Regions from separate parts of the Homo sapiens genome. Here all the other regions are reported to be linked to region 1. The links are microRNA targets in miRTarBase. Many come from high-throughput screens and were not tested one by one. Region 1 holds a microRNA gene; each other region holds the end of a gene's coding sequence.

Region 1 (3,620 bases):
GGGGAGGGAATGTCTAATAATTCCTAGGAAATGGCCCCAAACAGAACCAGGAGCAGCATCCCAACCTGTTCAGAAAAGAATAAAAAGCAGGGTCTTCAGCAACAGCTGGTTATAAACACATATCAATTTGCAATGAACATATTTTAATAAATACTCTACCAACCCAACTCCAGAGATGACTCACTGCCCCCACCTCCCCTGACTGGTCACCCAGGTGTCAGGACTTCTGAGTTCTCACTTTCCATTTCCCTCTCCACACCCTCATCCCCCAGCAGGGGTTGTCATTGTCGCCCCCATACCCAGCCCTACAGAGCCTCTGACTCTGGCCCTGTGAGGTTATCTTAAAGACTCTAGGTCTAGGATTTTTATAAAATGACCATATCGCTCAACAGTCCCCAAAAGTTGAGAGCAGCTCCTGGTGCCTTGGGTCCCTGACAGCACAAGGAGCTGAGACAGGGAATTAAATATTCTTAAGTAGACTAAAAAGATATTGTAAGATGAAGAGAGAGACCACCTTAAGCAAAAAGACCTGCATTTTCGCATTTTAACTCTGCACTCCTTGTCCGCACACACACTGGGTTCGGTTCAGTTTCAATGCACATTTAACCCATGGCCACCTTGCTTTCCTGCTTGCAGGTGGGGGCCCCAGTGAGGGCCCTGGTGGCTGGCCGTGGGAGCAAGTCAGTGCAGCATTTGCTCAGCTTGTGCTTGTGAGCACCATGTCCTTCCAAGGCACTTGGCGAAAGAGATTCTCCTCCACAGACACACAGATCCTGCCTTTCACCTGTGCCTATGGCCTCGTCCTTCAGGTCCCCATGATGCACCAAACGACCGAGGTCAACTACGGTGAGCTCTGCCCCTGCTGGTTTGTCTAAAGGGAGAGGAAGCCTGGGCCTGAGGGCAGGAGAGAGGAGGCCAGGTCCCTGCTCCTAAGGGATCGGGATGTGTTTCCGCAGGGTCCATCTGCTGGACTGGGCATGCATGGCGGAAGGAAAGACTAAGGTGCCCGGAGACTTTAGAGAGGAGTGTGGGACAGTGTGCTCTGACAGGACAGTGAGGACACAGATGTGGAAGAGAAACTCAGTTTCATGCCTGACATTTCCTTCTGCACTAGTAGAGTTTGGACCAAACTGCCACCCTGGCAGGCACAATAGGCCGGGATTGAATGGCTGCTCCTTTAAGATCGGGTACAGTAGTACCCTGTACCCTTATCCATGATTTTGCTTTTTTGAGGTTTCAGTTATCCGCATCAGAAAATATTAAATGGAAAATTTCACAAATAATTCTCAAGTTTTAAACTGCACGCCCTTCTGAATAGTGTGGTGAAATTTCCTGACGTCCTTCTCTGTTCCACCTGAGATATGAACCATCCCTTTGTCCAGCATCCCCAGGCTGTCTACAGTATGCCCGTTGGTCACTTAGTAGCCATCTCAGTCATCAGATCGAGAAAACATAGTATATGCAGGGCTCGTTACCATCCACAGGTTCAGGCCTCTACTGGGGTTCTTGGAGCATATCTGCCAAGGATAAGGGGGCACTACTCTATGTGGTTCTGCATGTGCCATCGTCCCCCCCCCCATACCCAGTCCTAGAGAACCTCTAACTCTGGTCCTGTGAGGGTATCTTAAAGACTCTAGGTCTAGGATTTTTATAAAATGACCATATCGCCCAACAGTCTTTGGCCTGAAACCGCCTCCTGAGGGTGAGGTGGATGCTCGGTTTTATTGTTTCCAGTCCTCTGAGCCAGCCTCTCTCAGGGTCCGACACTGGTTCATTCTCCTGGCTCCTGGGACAGAGCTGACCTCTGATCCACTGTACCCTCAGGTCAGTTCCAGGACACTGCAGGCCATCAGGTGGGGGTGCTGGAGCTTCCTTACCTGGGAAGTGCAGTGAGTCTGTTCCTGGTGCTGCCCCGTGACAAAGACACCCCCCTGAGCCACATCGAGCCACACCTCACAGCCAGCACCATCCACCTCTGGACCACCAGCCTGAGGAGAGCCAGGATGGATGTGTTCCTGCCCAGGTGAGCAGCTGAGTCCCCCTCACAGGTGCTGTGCAGCCAGCAGTCAGAAGAGCGTGGATTTGCACACAGGTGGTCTGCCTCCAGGGTCTGTGCTTAGCCACTGGGATGACTTGTTTAATATGTATCCCCAGAAGTTAGACCAAGAGGAAGTGACCCTAGAGTTTGAGTTCATTTCAGAGCCACTGCTGGCTAGCTCACAGCACAGACTGAAATGAACTAACTTCCCAGAGTCTTTCCAAGACAAGATATTCTGCCTTCACTGGGCTGGAATGGAGCCCCCCAGGACCCCCTGATCCAGCCCTAGGCTGGACCAGTTTTTGGAAAGGAAATGCTCGTGGTTCCCTTGTAGGAACGTTGCCCAAATCTTATCCCATCCTAAGAGTATACAACTGTCATTTTTCCAAAACCAAAGAGATAAGATGACTTACGTAATTGAGCAAGTACAGATAAAATTCTGATCAGACGCCAAATTAAGGCATAAAATTTTGACACTTTAAGTCTCTGTGCAGAAGGTTCTCATTCTTTCTAAATGGAGGTGAACTCTCCTTTAAGAAGACCCAATAGGTACAAATACAAATCAAAAAGTGAAGTGGTGGCATTCTATGTTGCTTTTTCAAAACAAAATCTATTAGCAAAACTCATAACTTTACAAAAAGACTCCTCTTAGGGCTTCTTTAAATGATGAGCTTCTGTGATGTATTTGAAATCAGAGTAAATTTATAACCATTTTTTGACCAGCATTAAGCAAGGAATGTTGTCCAGTAGCCACTAGATGCCTTGGCCTCTCTCCACTGCCTGGGCTTCCAGTAGGCAAAGGCAAAGTCCTTGGCAGTACTCCCTTGAGGAGTTAAAAGTAAATCTATGCACTAGAAGGAAAAAATACAAAGAGAGACCCAGTAAGTTAAGGGCCAAGGTCTAAAGTGAGATCTGGCATAACCCAGGGCAAAAGGTGCACTTAACTCTAAGGTAAAGTGTATCTCTCAAAACTAAATATTTGGACCCCAAACCAAAACCCAAATACTGGATATTTCAACAGATCTCTCAGGGAGGGAGCAGAAGCAACCCTAATCTTCCTATTATATTTGAGAGAAACTCAGCAAGGGAAGGAAGAGCAGCGTTCCGTGTCAAAAGTAGAGAGAAAAAGGAGGCTGGTGCGAGAATTCGCCACAACCTTTTTGGGTTTAAGAGACAGATGGTGGGACTCATCCTCGAGCAGTTCTTCCCTGGAAGAGACCCCGGGGAAATTCCCAGCTCCACTGAGAACTCTCCACCGTCCTGATTCTGCTTTTAGGAGTCTCAAACCCTCAAGCAGTTTGAAAACTGAAAAACACTGGCAGGCAGGGAAGGCAAGGCAAGGCAGAAATCTTAGTAACACAACTATTAGTTAGCACTTAACCTCATTCTGATAATTTTTTTTAAATCTCCTTAAGACTACCAAGACTGCTGTCCAAGGAGGATAGAGGTTTTTAGGAAAATGAAGTTATTTCACAAGTAAAACTAACCAAGTTTTTTTTGTTTGTTTTTAAGCTAGCTTTAAATCCTTTGGGGAACAAAACAAAAAAAGTAAAAACTCTCTTAGGTCTAGATTTAGGTATAA
Region 2 (3,000 bases), not on the chromosome of region 1:
CCCCCTCATGCCATATGAGGCCAGGCCTGTGGCTCGAAGCCCCTGAGCTGGGCATGTCCTGAGAGTCTGGGACCATCCAGGGGCTGCATCTTCATCCTCAGCCCTGCGTAGCCTTCTGCCCTCCTCCCAGGGCTCGTCCATTCCTTCAGCTCCAGCGCCTCCTCCACACGTCCATGCCTTCCACCTTGCCACATGGAGCACAGCCGTGCCCCCACAAGCCAGAGGGAACAACGAAGCTGGCAAGAAAGAACAGCAGTTAGAGCAGGGGCAACAATGGAGAAAGGAGTATCTATTATGAGCTTGGGCATTTTACACCAGCACTTCCCAGCCTTTTCCATAAACATGGAAAACATTTTTTGCATACGTACTGTGGTAAAGGAATCTGCTTCCTCCCAGGCCCCCAAGACCTGAGGGATCAATGTGGATCAATCCTCAGCACAGGGGGTCTGCCTTATACCCCACTTCTCAGCTAAACCCTAACTACAATGTGGGAGGGCATTAACAGGACCATCAAAGTGGGGTATGGCACTAGATGGGGCCCCAGGCTCACTAGGACTCTCTACTGTTGAAGACATCTGCAGGCGGGTAAGGTCGCCTAGGAGGTGGTAGTGGGGAGAGAAGGATCTAGGTTTCCACTGGAAAAATTAAGGCTAGAAGGAAGGCTAAATCCTTTCTCAGCCCTACTCCTACTTCTCACAAGAAGGGAGTGGCATCTGGGGAAGAGGGCACAGGGCTGAGAGCCAGGGCTTCCAGATTCTATTCCTGGCCCCTCCCCTGGGCCTTCCTGACCACAAATCCGCCCCCCACTCCCTGCCCTACTGCTCATAGAGGATTAAGACATCACAAATAACAACTCATGACCCCATCCTGCTGCACCCACCCACCCTGCCCCAGTGCCCCATGCCCTCCTCCAGCTTCTCCTTCCCTGGCCCAGCCAGGCCTGACTGGCACTCAGGGGCAGGTAGACAGCTAGGCCCCCACCCCTTGGCATCAGTGGCCCAGCCTCTGGCGCAGTTGCCTATCCTTCAGCTCCCTTGCTCTCCTAACAGTGAGCCCTAGGGCTCAAAACCCACTGTCAAGAATGGGGACCAGGTGTGGTGGCTTACACCTGTAATCTTAGCACTTTGGGAGGCCAAGGTGGGCAGATTGCTTGAGCTCAGGAGTTCGAAACCAGCATGGGCAACGTGGGGAAACCCCAAATCTACAAAAAAAAAAATTAGCCAGGCATGGTGGCGTGTGCCTGTAGTCCCAGCTACCTGGAGGCTGAGGTGGGAGGATCGCTTGAGCCCAAGAGGTTGAAGCTGTTGAGGCTGCAGTGAGCCATGACTATGCTACTGCACCAGTCTGGGCGACAGGTAGAGATCCTGTCTCAAAAATATATATATAGGCTGGGTGCAGTGGCTCACACCTGTAATCCCAGCACTTGGGGAGGCCGAGGCAGGCAGATCACCTGAGGTCAGGAGTTCAAGACCAGCCTGGCCAACATGGCGAAACCCCATCTCTACTAAAAATACAAAAATTAGCAGGGTGTGGTGGCAGGCACCTGTAATCCCAGCTGTTCTGGAAGCTGAAGCAGGAGATTTGCTTGAGCCCAGGAGGTAGAGGTTGCAATGAGCCAAGATCACACGACTGTACTCCAGCCTGGGTGACACAGCGAGACTCTGTCTCAAACAACAACAACAACAACAACAAACCATACACACACACACACACACACACACACACACACACACACACACATATGTAGAGGAGGAGCTGGATCCCTCAGGCCCAGTCCAGCCAAGGCGGCCCACTGAGGCCCCACCTTCCACTGAGGCCCCACCTTGGGAGCCGGACTCCTTGGCTCTATTTGCAACCCTTGATGGTGCCTTCGCCATCTGGGAGATACTGTCTTTCTACATCAATTCAATGCTCAAACTTTATGACAAGCATTCAACCTAGAGGGAAAGAGGGTCGGCCTCCACGATCCGCGTCCCCACCCTCGGTTGTCCTCAGCTGCCAGAAAGCCGAAGTCCAGGAGCCCTGCTCTGCGTGGAAAGCAGAGGCCCACAGCCTGGGGCAATGTGCAGGCCAACCTCCCTCTACTTCCTTCCACCTGAGTCAGGGCTGAACCAACTTGAAAGAAGGCTCATCTCACCCAGGTATCCCCCTCCCAGGGCTTCCATCTTCCTCTCACACACCTGGATCACATTCTGGACCGGCCAACCTGGTGCCTCAGGGGAAAGTCCGGATCTGCTGGGTTGGCCACTGGCCCAAGCCTCCCATGCCCTCAGTTGGCCCCAGGAACCTCCCCCCTAAGATGTCCGGCTCTGAAGTAGAATGCTAGTCCTCATTCTCTCTGTAGGGGAAAGAGAAGGGAGGGAAGGAGAGAAGAGGGCCCAGTCCCCCGGGGGCTTACCTGCCTTGACCTCAGCACTGAGGTGGTGGGTAGCATGAAGGAAAGATGGTGCGCCCGGTGGTTTAGGACACGAGGGTCCCGGTCCCGAGGCTCTGCCGGGCCCGCACTGTCTGGATGGCCTGCTGGTTCTTGAACTTGACCAGGCCTAGGGTGATCTGGGCGTTCCAGCCGGGATCTTCCAGGGGGCAGCGGAAGTCGATCTCGCCGCCCCCTTCGGTCACCAGCGTGAAGTAGATGTGGCGCCCGGTGCTCTCCACGCACTCCACGGCCTTGATGCGGGCGAAGCTGAGCTCCTTGGGCCGGCCGCCCGTGCCCTTGGCCTCGAAGAGCTGCAGCCCGCGTTCGGTGAGGACGCAGCGCTTCCGCTTCCACAGCTGCAGCAGCCCGCCGCTGCGCTTCTCCAGCACGCCCTCCTTGAGCACGGTAGCCGTCGCCGCCGCCGTCATGGGCGCCCCGAGGTTCGCGGAAAGCTCCAGGCTGCGGCGGGCGCGGCGCCCCTCTCGGCCCCGCAGCGCAGGATTCTGGCGCCCCGGGCTGGCAGGCCGTGCGCGCTGCCCACCTGCGCCCTGACTGCTCCGCGCACCCACACCGCGGCCCTCAGC
Region 3 (3,000 bases), not on the chromosome of region 1:
GGTTAGTCTTCATTCTCTTATAGAACTTTACACTTCCCCAAACGCTGTCTTCTCCATGGCTGTACTTGCCTAATAGCAACTGGGGAGGTAGGCTTTAGCAATGTTACACTTGACCAATAGGAAAATGAGGCTCAGAGAGGTGGAGTGACTCGCCCACAGTCACACAGCTTTAGTGGCTGGGCTGGGCGAAAGCACATCGTCTTTCTTGACTAACAGCTCTGTGACCACCTTATGCCTCAGAATGGAGAGGCCAAGTGGCTGTGTGGCTGTGCTGGGGAAATATCTGTCTCCTTTAATCCATGTAATGAAGAAAAAGAAAACTAGCTATTATGACTGTGGTTCATTGAGACCCATGGCTTCTGGGGTGACTACATCATGCCAGCTGTGAGGGGTACTTGGGCATCTGAGGTGATGGTGGGGATGAAGCCTGGCTGCCTTCAGAATCCCATGCCATCCTGTGGTCTTTGCCTTCCAGGGTTCAGGAAGACTGACTGAGGCCACTTCCAGGTGGGCAGCAGAGGCAGGCCCCAGTGTGACCACCACTGCGACCCCTGAGCCCACAAGGGCAGAGCAGCATTCTGAGAGACGCACAGGAGACCAAGCCAGACCAATAAACAGAACACTTTTCCTTCCATGTGGTCTGAATGTTGGCACCAGCCCGGGCAGGGGCATCTCATTTGGGCAGTACTGCTGTGCAACCCAGCTGCAAGGATGGAAGGCAGAGGGTGGGTGTGGGGCCTGAGGCTTCACAGTACCTGGACCAGCAGGAAGATTCTGGGAGGTCACTGCTCTCAGAGGACAGCAAGGGACCCTGAGCTCTGCAAGCTGTGATCTGTCTGGGTTCATGGTTTTTCTCAAATCCCAGGCTATCTGCATGCGCTCTCAGGTGCTACCGAGCCATCCTGGGAGAGATGGATGGTCCACTGCTTTGAGGCAGGGAGCCATCGGGCTGGGGCCCCTTGGTGAACCTGATGCAGGTAAGATGCTGAGGACTAAAACCATTTTTTTTGCACCCAAAAAAAAAGGCAGGAAAATGATCATCAGAAACTAAATGGCAGCCAGGCATGGGGGCTCACAACTGTAATCCTCGCACTTTGGGAGGCTCAGGCTAAGGGTCGCTTGAAGCTGAGAGTTCAAGACCAACCTGGGCAACATAGTGAGACCCCCATCTCTACAATTTTTTTTTAATGACCAAATGTGGCGGTACATACCTGTACATACCTGCGGTTCCAGCTACTCAAGAGGCTGAGGCAGGAGGACTGCTTGAGCCCAGGAGTTCAGGGCTGCAGTGAGGTACGATCAAGCCACTGCACTCCAGCCTGGGCGACAGAGCAAGATCGTTTCTCTAAAATTAAAAAAAAAAAAAAAAGACAAATAAAAATTGCATGTATTTGTAGTGTACAACATGTTTTGAAATATGTGGAATGGCTAAATCAAGCTAATTAACATATGTATCCCTCACATACCCTTTTTTTATGATGAGAACAGTAAAAACCTACTGTCAGCAATTTGCAAAGTATACAATACATTGTTATTAACTATGGTCACCATGCTATGTGATTGATATCCTGAACTTGAACTGAGTTCTTGATGGTCACAGACATGCTGTTCTCAAAACTCAGAAGGGTAACTTCTGAGGTTTTGATTTCAAGTACTTGTATGTAACCTAATTTAACGGGAGCCCAGAGTGCACAGATCAGATATTTATTAAACATATAAATAAAACACAGTTTTCACGATAGAAGTATGAACTTACTGACTTGGGAACAATGTGGTTAGCCTCATTTTATAGGAATGATGGGTCCCTGTGGCCAGCTCTGCCACTGCCTGGCTGTGATTTTATTTTCTTTCTTTCTTTCTTTCTTTCTTTTTCTTGAGACAGAGTTTTGCTCTTTTGCCCAGCCTGGAGTGAAGTGGTGTGATCTCAGCTCACTGCAACCTCCACCCACCATATTCAAGTGATTCTCCTGCCTCAGCCTCCTGAGTAGCTAGGATTATAGGCACCTGCCACCACACCTGGCTAATTTTTGTATTTTTGGTAGAGATGGGTTTTCACCATATTGGCCAGGCTGGTCTCAAACTCCTGACCTCAGGTGATCCACCTGCCTCGACCTCCCAAAGTGCTAGGATTACAGGCGTGAGCCACCAATGCTGGCCCTGGCTGTGATTTTGGTCAAGTCCTCCCCTCTCCCAGCCTTAATGTTCTCATCTGTACAATGGGGAGCATAACAGTGCCCACCTCACGGTATTATGTTGAGAACTGCATGAGATAATTACATAAAGTCTTATGCACAGACTCTGGCACATAGGTGATGCTCAATCAATGGGCGTTATTACATTAGACAGGAGCACAAATCAGATCCCCTTAGGGTCAGGCATACAGAGTCAGCAAGATGTAGAAAAGTGGGGGCTGGGTGCAGTGGCTCACACCTATAATCCCAATACTTTGGGAGGCCAAGGTGGGTGGATTGCTTGAGATCAGGAGTGTAGTAGCGTGTACCTGTGGACCTAGCTACTTGGGAGGCTGGAGTGGGAGAATCGCTGGAGCCCAGGAAGTCAAGGCTGCAGTGAGCCATGATCATACCACTGCACCCCAGCCTGGGTGACAGAGCGAGACCCGGTATCAAAAAAATAAAAATAAAAATGAAAAAAGTAGGGAGCAGGAAGAGGGGAACAGAAGAGCATATACCTGACCAAAGGGGGCAGCTGCTGTCTAGCAATTCCAGGTGAGAACACCAGCTAAGTGGGATCTGTCAGCCAAGCGAACGAAAACCACACCAGGTGCTTTAACAGAAAGAATTTAATAGAGGGACATGTTAACCAGGTGCAGGACTACTAGAAACGCAGAAAGGGACCATAGTATCACAAAGTGTAACTGAGGGAACTGCCTAGGGCTAGAGAGAAAAAGGAAAGAGGTTGTAGCTATTAGAAGTGAGAGGCCGGGGCCAGGTGTGGTGGCTCACACATGTAATCCCAGCACTTTGAGAGGCCGAGATGGGC

What was found. The annotated mature microRNA hsa-miR-5693 reads GCAGUGGCUCUGAAAUGAACUC and lies in region 1 at 2,188-2,209, opposite strand. An mRNA with a match to its seed (bases 2 to 7 or 8) in the 3' UTR can be bound and repressed. Matches are read on the target gene's strand: a 7mer-m8 pairs with bases 2 to 8, a 7mer-A1 pairs with bases 2 to 7 and ends in A, and an 8mer does both.
Region 2: miRTarBase lists PHLDA3 as a target of hsa-miR-5693. The part of its 3' UTR that is shown has no 7-base or 8-base seed match.
Region 3: the mRNA of TMEM40 is a reported target of hsa-miR-5693. Seed matches in the 3' UTR shown: 7mer-m8 at 1,304-1,310.

Annotation. Positions count from the first base shown.
Region 1 is chr13:51,346,389-51,350,008 of GRCh38, forward strand. It overlaps MIR5693 (microRNA 5693), which reads right to left and starts at 2,251; the gene lies at 2,179-2,251. SERPINE3 (serpin family E member 3) reads left to right here. Exons shown (of 10, transcript NM_001386375.1): 5 at 637-846; 6 at 1,825-2,023. It also overlaps a transcript of INTS6 not described here.
Region 2 is chr1:201,465,943-201,468,942 of GRCh38, forward strand. It overlaps PHLDA3 (pleckstrin homology like domain family A member 3), which reads right to left. Exons shown (of 2, transcript NM_012396.5): 1 at 2,399-3,000; 2 at 1-236. The coding sequence starts at 2,844. The coding sequence ends at 2,461. Among named protein-coding and RNA genes, the nearest start is that of PHLDA3, 1.7 kb to the right of the region's middle. RefSeq lists enhancers at 2,426-2,485, 2,556-2,695, 2,917-3,000 and a silencer at 2,766-3,000.
Region 3 is chr3:12,732,269-12,735,268 of GRCh38, reverse strand. TMEM40 (transmembrane protein 40) reads left to right here. Exons shown (of 12, transcript NM_018306.4): 12 at 476-1,741. The coding sequence ends at 495. Among named protein-coding and RNA genes, the nearest start is that of TMEM40, 25 kb to the left of the region's middle.